Homo sapiens: one gene and its partners. The protein of the gene in region 4 interacts with the protein of the main gene of each other region in a pairwise test. Each region holds a gene or a part of one and is shown on either strand. Other genes may lie near its edges.

What was found.
Region 1: the proteins of NUDC (region 4) and DNAJA2 interact in binary tests that used the Homo sapiens proteins (3 or more experiments, as listed by UniProt).
Region 2: the proteins of NUDC (region 4) and POC1A interact in binary tests that used the Homo sapiens proteins (3 or more experiments, as listed by UniProt).
Region 3: the proteins of NUDC (region 4) and POC1B interact in binary tests that used the Homo sapiens proteins (3 or more experiments, as listed by UniProt).

The regions. Positions count from the first base shown.
Region 1 is NC_000016.10:46,956,661-46,963,686, forward strand, and holds part of DNAJA2 (dnaJ homolog subfamily A member 2), read right to left. Parts: intron 2,760-7,026; coding exon 2,615-2,759; intron 2,471-2,614; coding exon 2,343-2,470; intron 561-2,342; coding exon 369-560; 3' UTR 1-368. UniProt on the Homo sapiens protein: Co-chaperone of Hsc70. Stimulates ATP hydrolysis and the folding of unfolded proteins mediated by HSPA1A/B (in vitro).
Region 2 is NC_000003.12:52,151,412-52,158,617, reverse strand, and holds the start of POC1A (POC1 centriolar protein homolog A), read left to right. Parts: upstream 1-4,194; 5' UTR 4,195-4,245; coding exon 4,246-4,263; intron 4,264-7,206.
Region 3 is NC_000012.12:89,516,022-89,523,047, reverse strand, and holds part of POC1B (POC1 centriolar protein homolog B), read left to right. Parts: coding exon of another isoform or gene 1-235; exon of another isoform or gene 236-3,636; intron 3,637-7,026. Other genes in the region: GALNT4 (polypeptide N-acetylgalactosaminyltransferase 4), read left to right, coding at 1-235; POC1B-GALNT4 protein, read left to right, coding at 1-235.
Region 4 is NC_000001.11:26,938,720-26,945,745, forward strand, and holds part of NUDC (nuclear migration protein nudC), read left to right. Parts: intron 1-2,737; coding exon 2,738-2,941; intron 2,942-3,033; coding exon 3,034-3,099; intron 3,100-3,940; coding exon 3,941-4,057; intron 4,058-4,151; coding exon 4,152-4,346; intron 4,347-6,670; coding exon 6,671-6,754; intron 6,755-6,848; coding exon 6,849-6,967; intron 6,968-7,026. UniProt on the Homo sapiens protein: Plays a role in neurogenesis and neuronal migration. Necessary for correct formation of mitotic spindles and chromosome separation during mitosis. Necessary for cytokinesis and cell proliferation.

The DNA of each region.
Region 1 (7,026 bases), on a different chromosome or scaffold from region 4:
ACAAATTGTACAAACTTTACAATGTGGGATTTAAATTTAAAATATGAAACATAAAAATCTACACAAAACTGATAAAAATCAAGCACAGATACCAGGATTGAAACTTATAATAATCCATGTGTGAAAGGGAGTCTTGTTTCCTTTCAAGTGCTTTATTCTGCTATGGAACAGTCAAAATGAAGATGTAAAGCTTTGTGGTTAGTTTAAATTATACACTCTGTAGATACTATACCAATTTTAAAAGTTATACATAGACCAACAGATGTCCCTCAGTTCATCTGGATTGATAAGACACTCCAGCTGGATTGCTGAGAACAAATCAGGCAAATGTGGAAAGAAAATCCACCTGTGCAATTTGTTTGCAGAGTTTACTGATGGGCACACTGCACTCCAGGTCCATGATGGCTGCTGCTTTCTTCATCAGAGCTATCATTATAGGCTTCACGCCTCTGACCACCTCCTGAGCCTCGAGTGCTATCAAATTCCTGAAGCTCTACCTCCTCTGTTTCTCCAATTATGTTAGGAACTTCCGGTCTAGATGGCAGAAGATCTTCTAGTTCCTTTATTAAAACAAACAAAAACCAGGTTGGTTGTAATATTTTCATCAACTTTCCTTTTGATACATAGAATCCAGTGTCTGTTTAAGAGTTTAAAAAGGGGCTGGGTGTGGTGGTTCATGCTTATAATCCCACCCAGCACTTTGGAAGGCTGAGGCGGGCGGATAATGAGGTCAGGAGATGAGACCAGCCTGGACAACATGGTGAAGCCTTGTCTCTACTAAAAATACAAAAAATTAGCCAGGCATGGTGGTGGGTACCTGTAATCCTAGCTAGTCAGAAGGCTGAGGCAGGAGAATCGCTTGAACCTGGGAGGTGGAAGTTGCAGTAAGCTGAGATTGTGCCACTGCACTCCAGCCTGGGTGACAGAGCAAGACTCCATCTCAAAAAAAAAAAAGTTAAAAAAAGGAATGTGGACTGGACTTTGAACTCTAAGTAAAAGATCACAAACTCATCACTCACAGGCCAAATTCTGCAGACATCTTTTGTGCAACCCATCTATTGCTTTAAGAACCAAAAAAAAGGTCATTATCTGCCAATACTTAAACATTAGAAAGTTTCTACAGGAGACACACCTTCCTGCATCCGGCATGGACACCAGCTTACGATAAAGGGGTAGTGGTCCTGCCCTCTGCAAATGAGGAACCTGTTCTCTCCAGGGAGTGCTACTCCTCATCACCACCCACACCGGGTCTACTTTACTCCTCTACAATTCCCTGCTTGGCCCCATCAACATTTACACCAGCAATACCCCATTTCCTAACAACTAGGAAAGCCTACCAATCACACAAATATACTTTAAAATTGAAAGTAACATGACTATTAAGAAACTTGAAGTCGGCTGGGTGCAGTGGCTCACGACTGCAATCCCAGAACTTCGGGAGGCAGGAGGATTGCTTGAGACCAGTCTGGACAACATAGCAACATCTCTATAAAAAGTTTTAAAAAGCATTAGCCAGGTGTGGTGGTACACACCCGTAGCAAGCCATGATCATGCCACTGCACGCCAGCCTGGGCAACAGAGCGAGACTCTCTTAAAAAGAAAGAAACTTGGCTGGGTGCAGTGGCTCACGCCTGTAATCCCAGCACTTTGGGAGGCCGAGGCAGGTGGATCATGAGGTCAGGAGATCGAGACCATCGATCTAACATGGCTAACATGGTGAAACCCTGTCTCTAACTAAAAATACAAAAACAAAATTAGCGGGGCGTGGTGGCGGGTGCCTGCAGTCCCAGCTACTTGGGAGGCTGAGGCAGGAGAATGGCATGAACCCAGGAGGTGGAGCTTGCAGTGAGCTGAGATCGTGCCACTGCACTCAAGCCTGGGTGACAGAGCAAGACTCCATCTCAAAAAAAAAAACAAAAACAAACAAACAAAAAAACCCCATAAACAAACAAACAACAACAACAACAAACTTACCAGGCATCGTGGCTCATGCCTGTAATCCCAGCTACTTGGGTGGCTAAGGCATGAGAATCACTTGAACCTGGGAGGCGGGGGGTACAGTGAGCCGAGACTACACCACTGCACTCCAGCTTGGGTGACACAGTGAGACTGTGTCTCAAAAAATTTTTTTTAAATTAGCCAGGCATGGCAACACACACCTGTAGTCCCAGCTCCTTGGGGGCTGAGGTGAGAGGATCGCTTCAGCCCAGGAGGTCGAGGCTGCAGTGAGCCACGATCACACCACTACACCCCAGCCTGGGTGACAGAGACCCTGTCTAAAAAACCAAAAACCGAACTCCAAACTTGGAAGTCAACTGTTGTTTAATTTAAAGAACACTTACAGAAAGCTTGTCTGGGTTGATCCAGTTGTTTTCAGGAAACTGCACATCAAACTTTATGTAAAGATCACCTTTTTCAAAGGGATTACGATACTGCGGCATCCCTTCACCTCGAACTACACGAACACACCCTATTATTTAAGAGGAAATGATTAATAATTTTACCCAAAAGAGGTGTTCAATTTTTTTTAGAGTTATGCAGTATAAAAAAATTACAAATTGTAATTTTTTTCAAAAATACTTGAAAACCAGAATCGGACAAAATCAAGATTTACCTGGTTCAATTACTTTGCCAGGGGGGTATTTCACCACAATCTGACGTCCATCAAGGTGCTTAAATGTGAACTGAAATCCACATAGAGCTTCAACAAGTCCTATTTTATATGTCATGTGCAAATCATTCCCATCTCTCTGAAATACCTATAAATAAAGCACAAAAGAAATACATTTTCTTAAAAATTATGGAGGTACACCCTGCAGCATTATGTTCCTTGACTTAATTTCAAAACCTTATTTCTACCACTCACTGCAAATCCAAAGTGCCACTGTCCCTAGTGCCCTAAACCGCATTAGGAAAGCTAGCTATTCCCAAGTAGTATGTGAGAAACTTCCATGAGGAAGGTGTACTGGAACTGGTAAACAATGGCATATATAAGAGCAACAGAACTGAGGCCCTCAAAACAGTGCCAGGTATATTCTGCAACTATTGCCCACTTTCAGACTCTGCCTCTGGTGAAAAAGGTACAGAATGCCCAGAGGGCTCCTACAGAACAGGCTCACCCTGGAGTGCTCCCCAGACATGATCGTAACAGGGAAGGGGGGAGGGTCCAAGATCAACATAAAACCCAACATCAACCAGTTAACACCCAGCCAGCAAAGTCAAGTGGCTCAATTCCGTGCTTCACACACATACCAACAAGTCTCACATCTCACTAAAATGCAAAACTGGCTCATTCAATATTACACTATAAGCCTATGGACTAGGTAATGCAAAAGGTATTGAGAATAAGCACAAAGAATGTTTCTGAGCCTTCAATGTGTAGGAAAAATACATCCAACTTCACACGCCCAACCTGCAATTTTTGCTTAGATTTTACAATGGTCACTCTTCTTGTAAAGAACAATCCTGGCCGGTTCACTTATAGAAAATCTGGTAGACAGGTTCTTTTCCTATGTTACTCTCCTAAATTTACTCATTAAACAAAGTTAAACCATTACCTTAACCAATGATTCTCTAAGTGTGGTTCTGGACCAGCAGCTTCAGGAAACTTGTTAGGAACACATATTCTTGGGCCCCACTTCCATTCCTGCCAGAAACAAGGCAGGCAAGATCCAGCATCTGTAGTCCTAACAAGCCCTCCAGGCAATTCTTGTGTGTGTGCTAAAGTTTGAGATCCAAGAAGGTATGTTATGTATGCACATATATTCAAGTGTTCCTCACAATGGGACCAATAGTTTTTTTAATGCAGGATTTTTCAACGCATTAAAAATGCTAAGTAGGCCAGGTGCAGTGGCTCACACCTGTAATCCCAGCACTTTGGGAGGCCAAGGCAGGCGGATCACAAGGTCAGGAGTTCAAGACCAGCCTGGCCAATATGGTGAAACCCCATCTCTACTAAAAATACAAAAATTAGCCAGGTGTGGTGGCACGCGCCTGTAGTCCCAGCTACTTAGGAGGCTGCGGCAGGAGAATCACTTGAACCTGGGAGGCGGAGGCTGCAGTGAACCAAGATCACACCACTGCACTCCAGCCTGGGCGACACAGCGAGACTCCATCTCAATAAGAAAAAAATAAAAAAATTTAAAAAAGCTAAATATAGGGTCAGAGCTTTGGGAGGCCAGTTCAAAACAGCAACATAGGGAGACAAAAAATTAAAACATAAACTAGGCTAGTTGAGGCAGGACGATCCCTTGAGCCCAGGATTTGGAGCCTGCAGGGGCAGTCCCTCCTCATTAATGATCCAGCCACTGCACTCCAGCCTGGGAGACAGAAGGACATCCTGTCTCTTAAACATAATAATAATAAATTTAAAATAAATGCTAAGTATACTGTAAAATGCCAGTGTTCTAAGAACCATCTTACCAAATATCCTTTGTTAAAGTCATACTATTTTAGGATGCATGCAGTGGCTCATGCCTATAATCCCAGCACTTTGGGAGGCTGAGGCAGGTGGATCACCTGAGGTCCTGGTCATCATGGCGAAATTCTGTCTCTACTAAAAATACAAAAACTAGCTGGGTGTGGTGGCATGAGCCTGTAGTCCCAGCTACTTGGGAGGCTGAGGCAGGAGAATCACTTGAACCCGGGAGGTGGAGGTTGCAGTGAACAGAGATCGCGCCACTGCACTCCAGCCTGGGTGACAGAGTGAGACCCCATTTCAAAAATAAAAACAAAAATAAAAAGTGGGGCAGGGCACGGTGGCTCACACCTATAATCCTAGCACTTTGGGAGGCCGAGGTAGGCAGATCACTTGAGGTCAGGAGTTTGAGACCAGCCTGGGCAACATGATGAAACCCCATCTCTACTAAAAATACAATTGCGCCACTACACTCCAGTCTGGGTGACAGGGCAAGACTGTCTCAAAAAAAAAAAAAAGAAAAGGGAACAGGAAGAGATACACATCACGTTCTTGTACAGGAGAGTTCAACTGAAAGTGATTTCAATAAAAAATGATTATGATTATCAGGATGGTTGTTGCAGCAGAGCGGGGAAGCTAAACAATTTGATGTTAAAAGTTTAAACAGAATAAACAAGCAAGGATGCCAGAGAGTTTCTGAAAAACAAGATTAATGAGGAGGGACCACCAAGCACTAGACCAGAAAACACTTAGAAGTCATATTTCTGAATAACAAAAGTACAGGTTATAGAGGCGTGACTAACATCACCAGGTTCTGTGGTTTGATGCTGTACAAGTGCACTATGGTAACCAGACCACCGAGACACACAAACAGGCACACTGACAAGTGACATGGCAGGATGATGACTATAGATGATACAGCACTCCCAAGAAGGAACGAGACAAACTTCCATTCTAACCTTTACCATCTTCTATTTTCTACTTTAGACAACTAGCTACATCTGCCTTCTGTTGAAAATTCCATGCCAATTCCACTGCTGCCAACAATTTTCAGAGATGAGTTACTTCCCAACACCTCCCCACAGGCCCCAAGAAAGAAGCTTATTCATAATCTCATTTGACTCTTTAATATCCAAAAAGTCCAGGGAAGCCAAAGCTAGTAAACGGGGCCCAGACCTTAAGTCCTTTGCCTCCAAATCCAATGATCTACTTTTAAAAACCCAATTTAATTATGCAGCAACATTAAAAACTAAACTTAGGGATAAAAAAGGTTTTACCATCAGTTTGACATGCCTCAAACCAAAAAAAAGTCATCCTTCCTCTGCAAATAAGCATTCCTTCTTCACTTCCTATCATGCTGCTGCACTGCCAGACATCATTTGACAACGAACCCCAAACGACTCCAAGGATTCTATCAATGAAAATGCCCAGGCACTGTCTGTACCATTTTACAACACAGTCTAACCTCCAAGCAGAATTTCCAATTATTTAGCTGTCTTGCTAGCTTTCTCCCTCATATTCCTGGTATGGTGGTGTGCACAGCAGCAAGACTGAAGGAACAAGGAAGTAGCTAAAATGTTAACAAATAGCAAATCTTGTAAATATTTCATTCTACAAGACCCAAAGGCAGAATTCTAAAAACTACTCTTACTTTTTGACAACCGAGGAGACGTTTGCTATCTGTAGGGTTGGCAATTTCCACAAAAAGCCAAAATACATAATTTGTAGCTTTGCTGAGTCATGAAAGCTGACTAGCATGCCCTGATTGTCCAGGAGATCAAGTCTGACCTTGTGAGGGATTACTACCAAATTCCTAAAACCTGCATCTCAATATGGCTTTGTTGTTCTCTATTGGATTCTTAAAGTGATTTTTAAAATTTACTCTATTTGAAGAAATGATCACCACAGAAGGACGATCTCCTTCTTTATCAAATATAACCTTTAAATTATAAATGATAATCAGCTTGCCCACCTTTTTAGAATTAAAAAGAATAACCTTTCACTGAACATAATACAAATTTACCATTTCTCCGTGTTCATTGGGCTTATGCATAGGAGAAAATTTTAGGGCAAACTAAAAAGGTGGTTAACCTGTGATGTAATGATTTTCAGAGGAACACATGAGTAAATGTGATCAAGTACAAAGCTAGAGTCCTATCAAGTGCTTCTAACATTCAAGAATTTAGGTGATTACTGGAGGGGTTTTTCATGAATAGTTCCAGATTTATTCTTTGAGTAGGGTCTACAGTATACAATATGGACATTAAAAATATACAAGTGCAATGTTAAAATCAAAATAACATACACTAGGCTGGGCACTGTGGCTCACACCTGTAATCCCAGCACTTTGGGAAGTTGAGACAGGAGGATCGCTTGAGCTCAGAAGTTCAAAACCAGCCTGGGCAATATGGCAAGACCCTGTCTCTACTAAAAATACAAAAAAAAAAAAAACCCCAAAAAACAAACAAACAAAAAAATAGATGGGCATGATGGTGCACCAGTTGTCCCAGCTACTTGGGAGGCTGAGATGGGAGGATTGCTTGGGCCCAGGGGCGAAGGTTGCAGTGATCCCAGATCACACCACTGTACTCCAGCCAGGGCGACAGAGC
Region 2 (7,206 bases), on a different chromosome or scaffold from region 4:
GTCCGTACTAAAAATACAAAAAAATTAGCCGAGTGTGGTGGCACATGCCTGTAATCCCAGCTACTTGGGAGGCTGAGGTAGGAGAATCGCTTGAAGCCGGGAGGTGGAGGTTGCGATGAGCTGAGATTGCACCATTGCATTCCAGCCTGGGCAACAAGAACGAAACTCCATCTCAAAAAACAAAAAACAAACAAACAAGAAAACAAAAATTAGCCAGGCATGGTGGTGCACGCCTGTAATCCCAGCTACTCAGGAGGCTGAGGCAGGAGAATTGCTTGAACCTGGGAAGTGGAGGTTACAGTGAGCCAAGATTGAGCCACTACACTCCAGCTGCCTGGGTGACAGAGCAAGACTCCTTTTCAAAAAAAAAAAAAAAAGAAAGAAATAAAGAAAAAAGAAAACAGAATTCAGGGCTGGGCGCAGTGGCTCATGCCTGTAATCCTAGCACTTGGGGAGGCTGAGGCAGGTGGATCACCTGAGGTCAGGAGTTCAAGACCAGCCTGGCCAACATGGCAAAAACTCGTCTCTACTAAAAATACAAAAATTAGCTGGACATGGTGGTGCACACCTGTAATCTCAGCTACTTGGGAGGCTGAGGAAGGAGAATCGCTTGAACCCAGGAGGTGGAGGCTGCAGTGAGCCGAGATCGCTCCATTGCACTCCAGCCTGTGCAACAGGGGTGAGACTCCATCTCACACACACACAAAAATAATAAAAATAAAAAATAATTCAGTTGATAGAGAAGAAATAATTTTTTTTCTGAAAGAAACCAAAGTACTAGGAGAGGAAAAAACCATGAAAGCCTTTTAAATACACACACACACACACCCCCACCATCTTGGATGTTAGCTTTTAAGTAAGCTGACTTTAAGCCATTAAGCGCCTTTAAAAAAAACCTTTTAAATATCATTACCATATTTTAGCTAGAACAAATAACTGATATTTCAAAAGTAACACAAATATCAAACCAAAAAGGGCTTGATTTAGGAACCAAACCCAGGCTGTCCTGGTGAAAAAAAGTGGGCAGAACCTTAGCTATGGAACTGCAGTTTGGGGCAACAGCATTCCTCTTTCAGTTTGGCTTGGTTAGCAAAAAGGTGGCCTTGTTATGTAAATAAAGCCCCTTAGGTAATCAAAATAAAAAATCTCTCCTTATTTTTTTCTTTTTGCTGGCTGTTTTTCTCTCTCTTTTTTTTTTTTGAGACGGAATCTCGCTGCGTCGCCCAGGCTGGAGTGCGATCTCGGCTCACTGCAACCTCTGCCTCCCGGGTTCTGAGTGATTCTCCTGCCTCAGCCTCCTGAGTAGCTGGGATTACAGATGCCCACCACCATGCCCAGCTAATTTTGTATTTTTAGTAGAGATGGGGTTTCACCATGTTGGCCAGGCTGGTCTCGAACTTCTGACCTCAGGTGATCCACCCAACTCGGCCTCCCAAAGTGTTGGAATTACAGGCGTGAGCCACCTTGCCCAGGCTTTTTTCTTTTTCTGTTGTGGGAATTTAGCCAATTCAGAGGCCTTGTTCCCCAAACTTTGGAACTTTCCTTCAGATTTGATCAAGTCAGATATAATTCATCAACCTCAATGGGAAAAAGAATGAAACAACAAAAACAGAAACAAACAACAACAAAAAACAGTTAAGCAAAAAAAAAAAAAGTGATCGCACAATTTGTTTATTTATTTTATTTATTTTATTTTTTTTTGAGACGGAGTCTCGCCCTGTCGCCCAGGCTGGAGTGCAGGGGCTTGATCTAGGCTCACTGCAAGCTCCGCCTCCCGGGTTCATGCCATTCTCCTGCCTCAGCCTCCCGAGTAGCTGGGACTACAGGCGCCAGCCACCACGCCCTGTAATTTTTTGTATTTTTAGTAGAGACGGGGTTTCACCGTGTTAGCCAGGATGGTCTGCGATGTCCTGACCTCGTGATCCACCCGCCTTGGCTTCCCAAAGTGCTGGGATTACAGGCGTGAGCCACCATGCCGGGCTTGATCGTACAATTTATATGATTACTGAGCACTCTAATGGTAAGGAAAATTAAGACCAGCTGGTTGTTAACCTTAACTTCAGCCAAGAAAATCCCCAATTCGGCTACTTACCTAAGAACAGGTCTTAGGCTAAAGACTGCTCTCTACCATCCCAGAAGTAGGGAAAACTCAAACTTTCCTTCTCTGTTGGAAGCGAGCTCAAACTCCAGAAAGGAGTTACCTGCCTTCCATCGTCAGGGAAGCAGGAAAACCTGCCTTCCTTGTTGGAAACAAGTAAAACTCCAGAAAAAGGAGTTGTACAGTAAAATAAACTTTAGATGTTAACCAAATTTGGGAAGATCAGGAATTTTGTGGAGGGGGGCTCCCAGGCCTTAGCAAATTGTCCTGTAGATTTGAGCCATAAAGATAGCTCAAGCTGGTACCAAGCACCGATAGGAGATCTGTCAAAGGTCAGGGGCACCTCCACTCAGAATCCTTTCGTGGTTGCCAAACTGTCAACCCGAAATACCTGAGACAGGTCTCAGTCAACTTAGAAAATTTATTTTGCTAAGGTTAAGGACACACCCATGACACAGCCTCAGGAGGTCCTGACAACATGTGCCCAAGTGGCCTGGGCACAGCATGGTTTTATACATTTTAGGGAGACAAAATACATCAATCAATACATGTAAGATTTACATTGGTTTGATCTGGAAGGACAAGACAACTCGAAGTGGGAAACTTCCAGGTCATTGGTAGATTTAAACATATTCTGATTGGCAATTGGTTGAAATAATTATTATCAGTAGAAAGGGATATCTCGGTTAAGATAAGGGGTTATGGAGACCAAGGTTTTACCATGCAGATGAAGCCTCCAGGTAGCAGGTTTCAGAGAAAATAGATCGTAAATGTTTCTTATCAGACTTAAGGTTTTTGTTGATGTTAATGCTGGAGGGTATAATGAGGCATGTCCAACCCCCACTTCCCATCATGGCCTGAACCACTCTTTCAGGTTAAATTTGAGTGCCCTGGCCAAGCAGGGAGTCTATTCAGATGGTTGCTGGTGGCCTTCAAATTTTATTTTATATATATATATATTTTTTGAGACGGAGTCTCCCTCTGTTGCCCAGGCTGGAGTGCAGCGGCAACATCTAGGCTCACTGCAATCTCTGCCTCCGGAGTTCGAACAATTCTCCTCCCTCAGCCTCCCGAGTAGCTGGGTTTACAGGCGCGTGCCACCACGCCCGGCTAATTTTTGTATTTTTAGTAGACATGGGGTTTCACCATGTTGGCCAGGCTGGTCTCATACTCCTGACCTCAGGTGATCCACCCACCTCGGCCTCCCAAAGTGGCAAAGTGCTGAGATTACAGGCGTGAGCCACTGAGCCCGGCCTCTCCTTCTTTTAAAGACTGGGTTTCTAACAGCTTCTGAGGCCTTAAGGATCCTGACAGGGCCGGGCTGCACCACACTCCCTCGTGTTACAAATGGGGAAACCGGGGCACAGAGCAGAGGCGTTTTTCCTGAGATCACACAGCCAATCAGGGCGAGAACTGAGAATCGAACCTTGATCTCTCCACTCCATGATTGTGATTCCGAGTAACTCATGTTATTTTAAATCGACACTTGTCTTAAGAACGTTCGGACGGCGAACCACTGAGAGTTCCCGAGGGGCGAATACTCAGCTCTCAATAGGTTCCTGCGGGGAAAATCTGGCTGCGCCGGCGCGCGCGGGTGCTTTAACGCAATCTGGTTACAGCAACCCACGTGTCCTCCGCTTCCGGGATCCTTAAGGCCGTCGCTTCGGGTGGTAAAACCCGGCCCGCCCTCTTGTTGCCCAGGCTGGAATGCAATGGTGCAATCTCATGTTGGGAAGTGTAGCTCCACCTTCCTCCAGACATAGGGGCGTGGGCGGCTTGGAACTGCATTTCCCAGGAGGCTGCGCTCGCCGTTAGAGTAGCCGGACGACGGGCTGGTGGGGTGAACCCTTCATCCTGGGTCTTTTAATTTCTCAGGCGGAACGAGTGGCGGCGGACAGAGGCTTTTGGCTGCGCTGTCTGTGGGTTGTCTGGGCTTGGGGAACTGGGCACGGAGACCGTGGCGCCGGCCGCCGGTCATACAGCTCTGCTTCCAGTCGTCGGGCAAAAAGCTGAGGCGCTTCTCCTTTAATTGCGGTGGGCGGGGCGTGCCGACGCGGCCCGCGTTGCTATTGGTGGCCGTTGGGGGCGCGGAAACTGAACGGGCCGCAACGGCCACCGCAGCTGCCTTCGGCGCCGCCAGCCCCGCCATGGCTGCGCCCTGCGCGGTAAGCCCAGCCGAGAGCAACTCCCCAGGCCTCAGTCTCCCCGCTGGGACACTGGGCGCCTAATGGCCAGAGCGATGGCTGCGAGGGGCGGGCGGGGCGCCAGGTTCCAGGGTGGTCCTCTTCAGGTCCAGTTTACTGTCTGCGCAGGGGGCGCTGGGTCGGGCACTTTCTGAGCGCCTCCTGCGTGCCAGGCCCTGCGCTGGGTTTCTGGAGCGAACAAACAGGCCTCTGCCTCCATAGTTTGCATCCTAGCGAGGGACACACGACCAAGTCCCGACTCATGTGTGACCTGGGGCCGGTATCGGGCCTCTCTAGCCATTCTCCACGTCCTTAGCAGTGGGTGGCTGCGTGGGGTCTTGTTGAGGGTACACCCTGCTCCAGCAGGTAGGTACAGCAGGACGCTGGGATGCCCGGGCCTGCAGTGTGAGCGGGGCGGAGCCGCCCTCTCTGAGTTCACATTCCTCCAGAAGTCCTCATTTCGAGAGATTCCTTTGAACGGGCAAGGCCCTCTGGCTGATTGGAGAGTCAGGGAGGCTGGGTGGTAGCCTGTGATGCCCTGAGGCACTTGAGGACATGGACGGAGATTCCAGGCTAGGATACAGACCTTTTGACTCCTAATCTGGTACTCTACCTCCCTTCCTGTCCCCTCATGTATAAACCACTGTTGAGGGAGATGAGGCCCACATGCAGGGAACTACAGAGGGGAGGCGGTGTTGAGAGATACCATGGGACCTACTGGTCAGGGGTGGACCTGAACTTGCCTCTGCCCACTGAGCCTAGGGGCGGACACTCTCTTACGCATGTTCTTTCAAGAAGCTTAGGTGAGAGCAGAAGGCTCTGTTGGGGACCCTCCCCCAGCTGCTCCTCCCTCTGTTGTTGAAAGGAGACTCTGACAGGTGCGTTAGGGGTGGAGCTGGGCACAAGGCCATAGGGCCTTTGTTCTGGTTACTGCTCTGTAGGGTGGCAGTGGCTTTGCTGTGCCCCAAGGACATCCTTTCCCAGGAGGAGCCTTTGGGCTTCCTGGAGCACCCAAAATGCTTCTTTGAGGTTTCTGATACTTAGAGTAGGGGGAGATGTTTGGATGGCTGAATTATAACCCTTCAAGTGTTAAGACACAAGCTGCTATTGGATGGAGAGAGTCTCCGGAGTATTCTCTCTGGTGTTTTAACTTTATTAAGTTATTCATACACCACAGAATTCACCTTTTAAAGTGTACATTTCAGTAGTTTTTAGTACATTCACAGTGTTGTGCAACTGTAATCACTAATTCCAGAATATTTTCATCATCCCAAAAAGAAACTCCATACTCAATAACAGTCATACCATTTCTTCTCTTTCCCCATTTTCTCCCAACCCTTGGCAAACTAATATATTAATACTTTCTGTCTCTATAGATTTGACTATTCTGAACTTTTCATATGAATGGAATCAGACAAAATGTGGCCTTTGGTGTTTGACTTCTTTCACTTAGCATGTTTTCAAGGTTCATCCATGTTGCAGCAAGCATCAGCACTTCAGTCGGTTTTATGGCTGAATAATATTCTGTTGTATGAATATGCTACATTTGGTTTATTCAGTCATGTGTTGATGGATCATTTGGGTTCAATCACTTGTTGGCTATTAAGGAAAATGCTGCTCTGAACATTTGTGTACAAGTTTTTGTGTAAACCATGTTTTCAACTCTTTGGGGTATTTACCTAGAATTGCTGGGTCATTTGCTAACCACGTTTAACTACTTTATTTTTTATTTTATTTATTTATATTTATTTTATTTATTTATTTTTTGATTAGGAGTCTCACTCTGTCGTCCAGGCTGGAGTGCACTGGTGCAATCTCGGCTCACTACAACCTCCTCCTCCTGGGTTCAAGCGATTCTCCTGCCTTAGCCTCCCAAATAGCTGGGACTATAGGCGCCCACCACCACGCCTAGCTAATTTTTGTATTTTTAGTAGAGAGGGGTTTTCACCATGTTGGCCAGGCTGATCTTGAACTCTTGACCTCAGGTAATCTGCCCGCCTTGGCCTCCTAAAGTGCTGGGATTACAGGCGTGAGCCACTGTGCCCGGCTAACTACTTTTTTTTAGTCAGGGTCTTGCTCTGTTGCCCAGGCTGGAGTGCAGTGATGTGATCACAGCTCACTGCAACCTTGAACTCCTGTGCTCAAGCAGTCCTCCCACCTCACCCTCCTGAGTAGCTGAGAATACAGGCATGAGCCACTACGTGTGGCTAATTCTTTAATTTTTTTGTAGGGTCAGGGTCTTGCTGTGTTGCCCAGGTTGGTCTTGAACCCCTGGCTTAAAGTGATCCTCCTGCCTCAGCCTCCCAAAATGTGGGGATTACAGGTGTGAGCCACTTCACCTGACCTATGTTTAACTTTTTGAGGAACTGCCAAATTACTTTCTATAGTATCTGTGTTTTTTGTTTGTTCGTTTGTTTGTTTGTTTTTAAAGATTTTTTTTTTTTTCTGGGTGTCTTGCATTTTCATGTGAATCTTGGGAGCAGCTTGTCAGTTTCTGCAAAAAAGACACCTGGGATTTTGATAGGAATTATGTGGAATCGGTAGATCAATCTGAGGAGTATCGTAGTATTGTATCTTAACAATAGTAAGTCTTCCTGTTCATGAATGTGGAATGTCTTTCCATTTTTTAAGTCTTCTTTCATTTCTCTTAGTGATGTTTTGTCGTCTTTACTGTACAAGTCCTGCACTTCTTTTGTTAAATTATTCCTTTTTTTTTTTTTTTTTTTGAGACGGAGTCTCGCTCTGTCACCCAGGCTGGAGTGCAGTGGCACAATCTCTGCTCACTGCAAGCTCCGCCTCCTGGGTTCACACCATTCTCCTGCGTCAGCCTCCTGAGTAACTGGGATTATAGGCGCCTGCCACCATGCCCGGCTAATTTAAAATATTGCTATTTTTTTTATGTATCATAAATAGTTTTATTTTTTG
Region 3 (7,026 bases), on a different chromosome or scaffold from region 4:
GTTATGTGCAGAGGTACCTGAGCAAAAAAATTATGTGGGAATGCAAAATTGTCCCAAAGATGGGTTCCCTGTACCAGCAAACATTATTTGGCATTTTAAAGAAGATGGAACTATTTTTCACCCACACTCAGGACTGTGTCTTAGTGCTTATCGGACACCGGAGGGCCGACCTGATGTACAAATGAGAACTTGTGATGCTCTAGATAAAAATCAAATTTGGAGTTTTGAGAAATAGAGCACAACAGCACTTTCGTCATGAGCTGACAGTAGTGTCAAGAAAGTCAAAGAGCCTTAAGAGCCTCAGTGAAGATTGTATTTTATTTTATCAAAAGCCACCTAGCAGTCATCTGTGGAGCACTGGAAAGCTGGGGTTCATTTTGGTATATCACACTGAAACTGGGTACCCAGAGTGCTGCTGTTTAATATTTCACAATGCCTTACTTATTGGTTGTTTTATATAAGAGTTTTGTCAATATGGTCTCTTCTTAAAAGAAGTTGACTATGAATTGAAACACACAAAACATTTAAGTGCCAGACTTAATATTAAAGAATGTAAAGGTCCAAGTAAAATGAGGTATGATTTATGTTGATGTGTAAGTTCACCGCACATCCCACTTTTTAACAAAACTCATGAATGTGCAGTTTGAGCCATTGCTATTTTGATTACATAGAATTTGTATTTCTTTTTTAGCCAGCACATTAAATTTTAGATTTTATTTTTTAATCTAATTTTTTTCTAATCAAAAAGAAAATTGAGCTTAAGGCAAAAGGCCTGGTTTTAGAGATATGTGTAATTGGAAGAGGGCATTTGTTTGAGTGTGAGTTTGGAGGCCTTTTTAACATGCAGACATACCCATATTTAAATGAAATGGGGAGATATTTACATTCCGTACTTTGTAAACTTGAGCTATTGGACTTCACTGATGTATATATTAATACCTCAGATTCCTCTGATTTTGTAAGCTGTCTTCTCTGTGAACGTGTTTGTGTGTGTAGGGCATTTTCTGATTGCACTTCCTTAAGTTATGAATGTACTAGAAAGGGACTCATCCAGAATACTATGCCTCCCTTTGTTAATGCTTAATCATTTAAAGTAAACACAATTGAAGCCTCTCTGAAGTTAAACCCAACTATGTTTATTAAAATGTGTGAAACTGAAAGTGGGCTAGGTTCTACCAAGGCTGTGGAACTCTCCTACGAGTTCTGCTGATCAGGAAATTTAAGAATTTATCTTAAAAATGCAAGGAAAAAAGACTGCCTTGGCAATTGTGAATGGTGCTTTCAATCTCCTAGCACCGAGCCTGGCACTTAGGCAGCTTTCAGTAAGTGGGTGAATGAATGACTGAATGAATGAATGAATGGCTCAGCTGAGGAATGTAACTTTGGTCAAGTTATTATGATGTGTTTGGGCTTAGTTTTCTCATTGGTAAAATGTGGGTGCTGGATTGGATCTTAAAGATCCCTTCCAGCTCTGAAATGCTGATTGTACAGTATATTCTTCCCAGATTGACTCACTGTGCAATCTTTACAATACTTTTTATCTTTTCACTTTTGACATAGGTAATGTTGTTGAGCAGTTGAGCAATGTTCAGTCCAGTTGTGAAGCTGGAGAAGAGAAATGGGTTTTAAAAATTAAGTGAGGGGAGGCCGGGTGCGGTGGCTCACGCATGTAATCCCAGCACTTTGGGAGGCCAAGGCAGGTGGATCACGAGGTCAGGAGATCCAGACCATCCTGGCTAACATGGTGAAACCTCGTCTCTACTAAAAATACAAAAAATTAGCCAGCTGTGGTGGCGGGCGCCTGTAGTCCCAGCTACTCAGGAGGCTGAGGCAGGAGAATGGCGTGAACCTGTGAGGCAGAGCTTACAGTGAGCCGAGATCGTGCCACTGCACTCCAGCCTGGGCGACAGAGCAAGACTCTGTCTCAAAAAAAAAAAATAATAATAAAATAAGTGAGCTGAACTCACCTGAAGTGGTTTACTTCTGTGGGTTAAGAAGTTCTAGTCAGTGTTCATAGTCGTTTCGTTTTGATAATTGTTGAACCAATTTTGTTTTTAAAACCTTTAGACTCTGAAAGTAATATTTTGACTAAGAATGTAAATATTTCCAAACTAAATTACTCGGGAAGTAAACGCTTTTTTTAAAAGTATTTTTACTGGTTTTATACCAATATTATATGCAGAAATCACAGGATGAATTTAGAATTAAATCTCAATTAGTTCACTTTGGCCTAGATTTATGAAAAATGCATGCCTCGTAAAGAGTCCACTGTATTCACGAGTAAAGTTGCTTTTAGTGTTCACTTGATGACTTGGAGAGTAGGAATTTTGCAAAATCTGAATTTAAGGAAATTCTTTAGGATAACCATTTCAAAAAATAAAATTGCTATGCAATCTTGAATATTTTCTCTTTTGCCTCGTAAAATGAAAATGCATTCACAGTTTCTGTAAATTATTTAGCAGCCTTAAAGTTTATCAAAAAATTGTCCAGATTCCACGTGCAGCATGCTTGGCCCTGCATTTAATTTAAGAAGGATTAATAATAATGCTCTGAATTTTTCGAAAGGGATTCTCCTAAACCCACCCACTTCTCTTGCCCAGGCTGCTTTTTAAAAATATTTTTTTATTTTTTACTTATTTTTAAATTTTCTCTTTTTATTTATTTTTGGTTTTCTTGTTAGCCACCTGTTATATGGGAGAACGAAAATTGTTATATTTTGAAAGTACTTATTACATTATTTTTATTTTAGTATCTTGATGCTCCTGTCAAAAGGGAAATGAGGCTTTTAAAAATAAAGTACCTTAATTCTTTATTGACTTTTTGCCCTAAATTGCTAGGTGTGACCCAGCAATCTTTTAGGAAGAGATTTTACAGTGGTGCTTTATTTATATCAATAATCCAGTATAGTTAGGCTGTTCATTCCTCATAATAGAGTACATAACAGAAAAGTGGGACTTTCACATTTTCATATTTAGGCACGTTCCAATTTAATTCCAAAAATACTCTGTAATTCTACATCTAAAAAAACCGATTCCCTAATTCGAATTTATTGGTACCAAAGCTCTCTTTGGCTATAGACAATTAAGAGTTGACCTTTTAAGTTAATGTATATGCTTAAAAACAGTTTTAGGAAAATATTTGGTAGACAAAGAGTTTCAACTTTAAATGTTCACTATGTCATTTAGTGTCCAACTTTACGGATAGGTTGACTATCTAAATAGGCATTTTTAGTCATTAAAAAAAATCTAGTCACCAGGAGGATCCCTATAACTCAAAATAACTTGTTTGTAAAAGAAAATTTGTTTACTTACCCATTAGTAAGTTCCTGCATATTCATTATAAGATGGCAAATCAAACTTTTCTAGGATGAAGACAGCTTATTTTTAAGTTGTATAGTCTTAGTTGGTTTAGGGTCTCAATTTTAATTAATAAAATACTTGGTTTTTATTTGCTTGTCCTTTTGAATTCCTGTTTTAATAATTTTAAAATGAGCACAAAGAACGTTGAAGTTCAGATTAATCTCTTCTGAATGATGTTTTTTTCCTCTGTGATGAGTTGTTTCTGACTTTTTTCCTTTTGTATTTGTAATGTTGATTAAGATGTAAAATAAAAAGTGTGCCTGATTATTTTTGCAAATAGATTGTGATTATTTTAGCCTATGGGAACATACTCCTATGTATACATTTATAATGGCAATGGAAGTAAGTTCAGCTTGCAGTTCTTTTACTTATTTGAAAATTCAGACAGTGGATATTTAAAAAGTCAAAATTCCCATATTATTTTACAACGTGTCATTAATCAGCAAGTATTCTGAAGGGGTGTTAGTACCATTATTTTATTAACTACTCATGAGCAAACTAGAAATGATCTGGGATCTCTGGGGCCCACTTGGACCACTATAAAAGGAAGCAATGGGCACCTGGACATATTAGCACCAATTTCACTACCCTGGGTGGAAAACAAAAATGTCTGTCCTCTAAACCACATATCCTCATATTTCCCCGGTCCATAAATGAAATTCCCTTCCACCAGTGGCCTGTCTCTTCCTCTTTAGTGATTCCTAAATCCCTATACCCCTGTCTCTCCTTGGCCAGACACACTGCCTGAGAATGACTCTTCTAAGGACTCTAACAAAATCAGATGGTCTTATAGCTGCATTTAGCATATATATAGGTGACCTAAACATATTTTCACTAATTTTTATACACTTAAAAGTTCCTGTAAATACTTGTATTCTAACCTTACTCTCTAAGTGACTTGCAGCTCTGTGTAAATCACTTCATCTCTCTGTGTTTCAGTTTCACGAGTATAAAAAAGACTGGAAAATCCATAGAGACAGTACATTAGTGTTTGCCAGGGTCTGGGAAAGGGAGGAATAGAGAACGCTAACAGAGATGAATTTTTGGCAGGTGGCAGGGGGTAGGGGATTATGAGAATGTTCTGGAATTTGTGATAAAAGTTGTGCAAATGTTGGGCAAAACACTGGTGTACTTTAAAAGACTAAATGTTATGGTATTTAAATAATATCTCAGTTTTTAAAAATACCTCAGGAAAAAAAGCAGGCTGGAGAATTTCAGGTGTCTCAGAAAAGATTTCTCTTTGCATGCTAGACCTCTTTGCATGCCTCTGTGCATGCTAGACTTTAGAACAGGCTAGTAGTATTTAGTATTAATAATACTTGAATCATTGTGTAATTTGCAGAATTAAGAAAGTTACACACATATATATGAATGAATCAGTCTGCTTAGTATTAGGTGGGGCTTGGAAATCAGTTTATATTGGAGTTTTTCCTAAAATTTCAGAGAAACTTCAATCAATCCTTTTGGACAGGAGGTGGAGATTACTGTAAAAGGTGAAATGAGCTCCTGAGTTGTATAGTTGTCCACAGCAGAAATGAAAATTAGAGGGCACATGTCCTCAGGACCTCCTGATGCTGTGTCATGTTTAAAAAAAAAAAAAAAGGAAAATTAGAGCAGTCCTTCTAACTTAATAATTATTGGGGTACTACTTTTTCATTCGTGCCAAGCTTTATCAATCTTCCAGGCTGGGCTGGGAGTGATATCTACTGCAGGCCAGCAGTGTCTTCGGGTGTCTGGTCACCATTCTAACCTGTCTATTTGCATTTATCTAATCCTGTTCAAAAGGGGAAGAGGAGGCACTCTATTTATTTACTACTCCCTTATTTAGTTAAGGCTACTGTGTGCCAGATGCCATTTTATGCTCTGGGTATACATACAGAGGGGAAGAAAGCAGATGTGCTTCATAAGATGGTATGAAGAGTTCATGGTCCAGTGGTGGAGACAAATAATTAACAAGTAAACACGAATCCATTTGTTGGAACAACATGATGAAACAAAGGAAAATAGTCAAAGCTGTGAAGGAAAGGAATAGAATGCTTTTTTCTTTTTTTTTTTTGAGACCAAGTCTCACTCTGTTGCCCAGGCTGGAGTGCAGTGGTGTGATCTTGGCTCACTGCAACCTCCATCTCCCAAGTTCAAGCGATTCTCATGCCTCAGCCTCCCAAGTAGCTGGGACTATAGGTGCATGCCATAATGCCTGGCTAATTTTTGTATTTTTAGTAGAGATGGGGTTTCACCATGTTGGCCAGGGTGGTCTGGAACTCCTGACCTCAAGTGATCCACCCACCTCAGTCTCCCAAAGTGCTGGGATTACAGTTGTGAGCCACTGCACCCAGCCATAGAGTGCTTTTTAAAGGGAGGATAACAGTGGAGACATCCTTATATTTATGGGGTCAAGGAATACTTCCCTGTGAAAGTTAGATTTAACTGAAGACCAGAAGGAGAAGTTAGCTAGGTAAGGACTAAAAGGAGAGTAGCATAGGCAAAGATCATGGGTGAGAAAGAGCTGTCCTAGATCAAGAAAGTATAAGAATGCCAGAATGGGTAGAACCTGGTAAACAGAGATGAAGCTGTAGGGGGAGGTAGAGATAGCTTAGGCAGGGCCTTGAAGCTATAGTGGGTTTAAATGGTGGCCCTCCAAAACATGTGTCCATGTCGTAGTCCTTGGAACCTGTGATGTGACCTTATTTGGGAGGAAAAAGTCTTTGTAGATGTAAGTCTACAAAGGATCTTAATGATTATGAGATCATCCTGAATTATCTGGGTGGGCCCTAAATCCAGCGATGTGTCCTTGTAAAAAACATACAGAGGACATAAGAGGAGGCCACGTGAAGCCAGAGGCAGAGATTGGAGTGACACAGCCACAAGCCAGTGAGTGCCTAGAGACATCAGGACCTGGGAGAGGTGGGGAATGAGATATCCCCTAGAGCCTTTGGAGAGAGTGTGGCCCGGCCAACACCATGATTTCAGGCTTCTGGTTTCTGGAACTGTGAGATAATAAATTTCTGTTGTTTTATGCCTCCAGGTTTATGGTAATTTGTTACAGCAGCTACAGGAAACTTGACATGTTTTAGGATTTTGTTCTGAGAGTGGTGGAAATTGTTGGAGGGATTAGTAAGGGAATAACATGATTTGATTTGTACCTCAAAAAGACCACTCTGGCTACTATATGGAGATTGTACTATTAGTAGGGAAATCACTTAGGGGGATTATAGTAATACCAGCAGATGATGTTGGTTCAAACTAGGATAATGGTCTTCAAATTAGTGTGATGGTCTGGGCAAGATGGAAATTTGGGAATTATTAGCATATAAATGGTATTTAGTGTCATGGGAATGAATGAGATCACCTGGGAAGAATGTAGAGCAATGAGAACAAATACCCCATGTCTGAATATTGAAGATATCCAACCTGTAGATCAGAAGAGGAGATAGCAAAATAACCTAAGAAAGAATAATCAGAAAGATAGGAGGGAAAGCCGTTATAGTAGGGTATCATGAAAGCCAAGGGTTAGGAGTGGGGTAGAAATGTTGAAGATAGAGACAATATTAAATAGTCATTAGAGAGAGTGGAGGAAGAAACTAATAGAGAATCATGCACCACTTTGGAGTATATAAGACCCATGTGAACTTAGTTATCAAATTTATAGTGTTTCCAATCTGTTTGG
Region 4 (7,026 bases):
CCTGCAGAGCTTTCCCTGCAGTTCTGCCTTAGAGATGCTTGAAAGAGGGTTTATTGACCACTGATCACATGGCAAGTGCCCTGCAAGGCCTCTAGGGGTATGTGCGTATGTGTGCACATGCACACTGTGTATGGGTTGGCATTGAGTTGAGTGTCCTAAGGGTATGTTCCTGGCCAGAGGTGAAACTTTGACACTTGACTGGTCATGGAGGATGAATTGGTTTGCCAGGTGACCTGAGAATGGGGATGAGACATTCTAGGCAAAGAACAACACATGCCAAGATTGCTTTTATTTATTTTGAGACAGGGTCTCCCTCTGTTACCCAGGCTGGTGGCGCGATCTCTGCTCACTGCAACCTCTGCCTCCCGGGTTCAAGTGATTCCCCCACCTCAGCCTCCCAGGTAGCTGGGACTACTGGCGTGTGCCACCACACCGGGCTCATTTTTGGATTTTTAGTAGAGACAGGGTTTTACCATGTTGGCCAGGGTGGTCAAGAACTCCTGACCTCAGGTGATCTGCCCGCCTCAGCCTCAAGTGATCCACCTGCCTCATCTTCCCAAAGTGCTGGGATTACGGGCATGAGCCACCACACCTGGCCAAGACTGTTTTTAGAGATAATAACTTAGACCAGGCATAATGGCTTACACTTGTAATCCCAGCACTTTGGGAAGATGAGGCAGGTGGATCACTTGACCCAGGAGTTTGAGACCAGCCTGGGCAACATGGCAAAACCTTGTCTCTATAAAAAAATACAAAAATTAGCCAGGCATGGTGGCATGTACTTATAGTCCCAGCCACTGGGGAGGCTGAAGTGGGAGGATCACCTTAGCCCAGGGAGGTCGAATGCATTCCAGCCTGGGTGAGTGAGACCATGCCTCAAAAATAATAATAATAATAACAAGATAGAGGCACAGAGACATGACCTCAGGGTCACGCAGGTAAGAGTAGACCAGGAACTCAAATCTAGGTGTGATTTTGAAGTATGCATGGAAATTGGCCAGGAGGGCTTGTTAAAAATACAGATTGCCTGGCCATACCCCAGAATTTCTGATCCAGTAGATCTGGAGTGGGGCTTAAGATTTAGCGTTTCTAACAGGTTCCAGGTGATGCTGATGCTGCAGGTCAGGGGAACCCTGTGATGTGGACCTCACTAGGCTCTTGATTTGTGCTGTCATACTCAATCCTCATGACGGATAAGGAAACAGGCTTAGAAAGAGTCAAAGTTGTTCACTTGTCTAAGGCCAGGAGCCAAATAATGACAGGTGGCAATAGTATGGGTGGAGGGTTGTCCTTGGGTAGCAGGGAGGCTGGCTAGCACATCCTGGAGTGGAAACCTCCTGGGAAGGTGTAGTGGAGAAAAAGGATTTGAAGTTGATAGCTTGCTTGCTGGAGAGAGGGTGAACAGGCTCTTCCTTCAAGAAAGCTCCCTGGCTTTGACCTGGCGCGGTAGCTCATACCTATAATCCCAGCACTTTGACCGGGCACGGTGGCTCACACCTATAATCCCAGCACTTTGGGAGGCTGAGGCAGGCGGATCACTGGAGGTCAGGAGTTCGAGACCAGCCTGACCAACATGGAGAAACCCCATCTCTACTAAAAATACAAAATTAGCCAGGCGTGGTGGCACATGCCTATAATCCCAGCTACTCGGGAGGCTAAGGAAGGAGAATCACTTGAACCCGGGAGGCGGAGCTTGCAGTGAGCCAAGATCACGCCACTGCACTCCAGCCTGGGCAACAAGAGTGAAACTCCATCTCAAAAAAAAAAATTAAAAAAAAAAGCTCCCTGGCTTTCTGCTAACGTGTCCTTTTTGGGTGTGGTGTCAAGTCTTGCATAGCTGGACTGTGGTCTTGGAGACAGGATGCACTAAGAGTAAGAGTGATTAGTCAGAGGAGTGGGCCTGAGAACTCAGGAAAGGCTTGTGAGGGACTGAGGCTTGAGTTTTTACTTTAAACAGCGCCACTTTTTTTGTTTTGGTTTTTTTGAGACAGAGTCTCGCTTTGTCACCCATGCTGGAGTGCAGTGGCCTGATCTCAGCTCACTGCAACCTCCACCTCCCTAGTTCAAGCAATTCCCCTGCCTCAGCCTCCTGAGTAGCTGGGATTACAGGCGCACGCCACCGCGCCTGGCTAATTTTTTTGTATTGTTAGTAGAGACGGGGTTTCACCATGTTGGCCAGATTAGTCTCCAATTCCTTTATTTATTATTATTATTTTTTTTTGAGATGGAGTCTTGCTCTGTCACCAGGCTGGAGTGCAGTGGCACGATCTCTGCTCACTGCAACCTCTGCCTCCCAGGTTCAAGCGATTCTCCCACCTCAGCTTCTCGAGTAGCTGGGATTACAGGCCCCCGCCACCATGCCCAGCTTTTTTTTTTTTTTTTTTTTTTTTTGTATTTTTGGTAGAGACAGGGTTTCACCATGTTGGCCAGGATGGTCTTGACCTTGTGATCCACCCTCCTCAGCCTCCCAAAGTGCTGGGATTACAGGTGTGAGCCAGCGCGCCCGGCCAAGCATCACTTTTTAAAACAGCCAGTTTATTGAGACAGGTGCTTTGCAGGTATTGTCATTACAACCCTATGAGATAGATGTATTTTCCTCATTTTGCACATGAGGAAACCGAGTTTCTGGGTGCAGTGCTTTGCCCTTGCACCCAGCAGGTAGAGAGTGGGGCTGGACTCCAGGCTGTGGGACACTGTCCCCTGCTCTGATGCCTCATGGCCTTTCTTCCCTCTCCAGCTTATCACACAGACTTTCAGCCACCACAATCAGCTGGCACAGAAGACCCGGCGGGAGAAGAGAGCCCGGCAGGAGGCCGAGCGGCGGGAGAAGGCGGAGCGGGCGGCCAGACTGGCCAAGGAAGCCAAGTCAGAGACCTCAGGGCCCCAGATCAAGGAGCTAACTGATGAAGAGGCAGAGAGGCTGCAGCTAGAGATTGACCAGGTGAAGGGTGGGCTTCCCTTCTCCACCCCTCAGATCCCCCCTGGCACTGAGCAGTGGGGTCCTGTTGCCAACTGCTGTGCTCTTTGCCCCAGAAAAAGGATGCAGAGAATCATGAGGCCCAGCTCAAGAACGGCAGCCTTGACTCCCCAGGGAAGCAGGTGAGATGGACTGCAGGGACTTGGGATGAGCCAGGAGCTTGGAACTTACAGGAAATCTCCTGCCTACTGCTTTCTCTGGAATACCCTTCCTTATCCTATCCCCTCCCCTCCTGGCTTTGGGAATCTTCCCCATACTTTAAGATCACACTCAGAGACATTGAACCAAAGGATCCAGGTTAAAAAAATAAAAACCTGCCAGGCGCAGTGGCTCACACCTGTAATCCCAGCACTTTGGGAGGCCGAGGTGGGTAAATCACGAGGTCTGGAGTTCAAGACCAACTTGGCCAAGATGGTGAAACCCCATCTCTACTAAAAATACAAAAATTAGCCAGGCATGGTGGTGGGCGCCCGTAATCCCAGCTACTCGGGAGGCTGAGGCAGAGAATTGCTTGAACCCGGGAGGCGGAGGTTGCCATGAGCCGAGATCACGCCACTGCACTCCAGCCTGGGCGACAGAGCAAGACTCCGTCCCAAAAAAATAAAATAAAAACCGACTGACCTTAACCTGTTTATGGCAAGAAAACCCAATAGCCAGAGAGGGCAGTGCCTATTACAGGTCCCATCTGAGGTTGGCTGGGTTCTGTGGGCCCAGCCATATCCTTTGTCACATGGTATAATATTAATAGTCTGAGCTCCTCTCAGACTGAGATCAGAACCAAGTTTTACCTGGTTCCCAGTGGACCAAGGCTTGGGGGTCTGCCCCTCTGTGGAGTGGGCAGGGACCAGGTCTGTTTTCTTTTGTGGCTGTATGCCCAGTGCTAGCCCTGGGCTTGGCCCAGTGAGGGTTCAATCTGTGTCTTGTCTGTCAAGTAAGTAGCTGAGTGTCCCTGATTGTAAGCAGGATACTGAGGAAGATGAGGAGGAAGATGAGAAGGACAAAGGAAAACTGAAGCCCAACCTAGGCAACGGGGCAGACCTGCCCAATTACCGCTGGACCCAGACCCTGTCGGAGCTGGACGTGAGTGTCAGGGACCAGAGGTAAAGCTTAGGGGGCCAGCCTGGGGTACCAGCAGCACTTAGTGGCCTCTTCTGACTGCCTCTGCCCTATGCAGCTGGCGGTCCCTTTCTGTGTGAACTTCCGGCTGAAAGGGAAGGACATGGTGGTGGACATCCAGCGGCGGCACCTCCGGGTGGGGCTCAAGGGGCAGCCAGCGATCATTGATGGGGAGCTCTACAATGAAGTGAAGGTGGAGGAGAGCTCGTGGCTCATTGAGGACGGCAAGGTGGTGACTGTGCATCTGGAGAAGGTATGTGAGGCCCAGCCCTTCTAGCCTGGGGTGTTGATGGAAGTAGAAGGGAGGATGTGTGCTTAGTTTACTCAGGAGCCATGCTGGGGGCATTGTGGGATTATCTTAATCCCCATGACAACACTCTTTAAAGTAGATCTGTCTCTATTTTATTTTCTTAAAGACAAGGTCTCACTCTGTTGCCCAGGCTGAAGTGCAGTAACACCTTCTTAGCTCACTGCAGCCTTGAACCCTTGGGCCCAAGCAATTCTCTCGCCTCGTCCTCCTGAGTAGCTAAGACTACAGGTGTACACCACCACGCTCGGCTAATTTTTGTTATTAAATTTTTTTGTAGAGACCGGGGGGTCTCACTATATTTCCCAGGCTGGTCTTGAACTCCTGGCCTCAAGTGATCTTCACACCTTGGCCTCCCAAAGTGCTGAGATTACAGGCTTGAGTCAGGAAAAGAGCTCGTTGATTTACCCAAGCTCCTACCTCTGGGAAGGGGTGGAGTCAGAATTGAAAGTCTTAGTTTCTAAAGCCACTTCTTTTTCACTAGGTTTGTACATGCATTCAATTCATCAAATACTTGAACACCTGCTCTGTGCCTGGTACTGTTCTTGTTCTAAGTGCTGGAAAGAGAACAGTGAACAAAACATAGGAAAATATGTGCCCTCAGGAAGCCTTCATTCTCAACCTCACTGCCTTTACAGAGAGGTAGGACACAGAGATCAGTAAATAAAGGTGGTCTGAAAAGGGCCAAGGGTCTGAGGAGAACTTCCCAGGGCACATAAGACCCTGTAACAGCCTGTCCGACTGGCACTGGCTGCCTTCACTCACTCACCCCTCCATGCCTCTGCACTTGCTTTGTCGCCCAGGCTGGAGTGCAGTGGCGCGATCTCGGCTCACTGCGAGCTCCGCCTCCTGGGTTCATGCCATTCTCCTGCTTCAGCCTCCAGTGTAGCTGGGACTACAGGCGCCCGCCACCATGCCTGTATTTTTTTTTTTGTCTGTTTTGTTTTCTATTTTTTAGTAGAGACAGGGTTTCACCGTGTTAGCCAGGATGGTCTCGATCTCCTGACCTTGTGATCCGCCCACCTCGGCCTCCCAAAGTGCTGGGATTACAGGTGTGAGCCACCATGCCCAGCCCTTTCCCTGCCTTTTAAATTTATTTTTTATTTTTTGAGACAGGGTCTTGTTCTCACCCAGGCTGGAATGCAGTGGCGCAATCACGGCTTACTGCAGCCTTGACCTCCCGGGCTCAAACGACCCTCCCACCTCAGCTTCCTGAGTAACTGCGAGCGCCACCCTACCTGGCTAATTTTTAAATGTTTTTTGTAAAGACAGGGTCTCATGTTGCCCAGGCTGGTCTGAAACTCCTGGGCTCAAGGGATCTTCCTGCCTTGGCTTCCCAAAGTGTTGGGATTACAGGTAGGAGCCACTGCACCTGGCACTTCCCTGCTTAAAAACTTTTTCTGGCTGGGCGTGGTAGCTCATGCCTGTAATCCTAGCGCTTTGGGAGGCTGAGGTGGGCAGATCACGAGGTCAGGAGTTTGAGACCAGCCTGGCCAAGATGGCAAACCCCATCTCTAATAAAAATACAAAAAATTAGCTGGGCATGGTGGTGGGCGCCTGTAATCCCAGCTACTTGGGAGTCTGAGGCAGGAGAATCGCTTGAACCCAGGAGGTGGAGGTTGCAGTGAGCTGACTGCACCACTGCACATGGTGGCTCACACCTGTAATCCCAACACTTTGGGAGACTGAGGCAGGCAGATCATCTGAGGTCAGGAGTTTGAGACCAGCCTGGCCCAATATGGTGAAGCCCCGTCTCTACTAAAAATACAAAAATTAGCCAGGTGTGGTGGTGCATGCCTATAATCCCAGTTACTCGGGAGGCTGAGGCCGGAGAATTGCTTGAACCCGGGAGGCAGAGGTTGCAGTGAGCCGAGATGGTGCCACAGCACTCCAGCCTGGACAAGAAGAACAAGACTCCATCTCAAAAAATATATATATTTATTTTCTTCCCATTTTAAATCTGGAATACTGCTTTGTGTCTTAAGACTCAGCCCGAGTGTCACTTTCAAACTTTTCTCCCTCCACCCTGGATGAATATCTCCCTTTCTGCTTTCTTCTTTCCCTTATCACACTGATTTGTAACTCTTTGCCTCTGTGTCTCCCCTAGCTGCAGGAAGGGCACAGTCTTGTACCTCTGGATCCAGTGTAGGCCTGCAAGGGTCTCAGGTGCAGGATGTGGATGGGAGAGAGTTTGGTTGTGAAAGGGTTAAGGGGTGATTCCTGGTGCACAGAGCAGGCCACCTCCCACCCTCTGGTTGTTCTCTTCACAGATCAATAAGATGGAGTGGTGGAGCCGCTTGGTGTCCAGTGACCCTGAGATCAACACCAAGAAGATTAACCCTGAGAATTCCAAGGTGAGCCCTGGCTGGTTGGGGGAGCTTCAGCAGGAAGGTGAGGGGCCTCGTTGTTTCCAGAGCTTCACCGATTCCTGTCACTGCCTGCCCTCAGCTGTCAGACCTGGACAGTGAGACTCGCAGCATGGTGGAAAAGATGATGTATGACCAGCGACAGAAGTCCATGGGGCTGCCAACTTCAGACGAACAGAAGAAACAGGAGATTCTGAAGAAGTGAGCAATTCAGAGACGGGGTTGGGGGACCGTGGGTGCCTGGGGGCTTAGACTTCGGT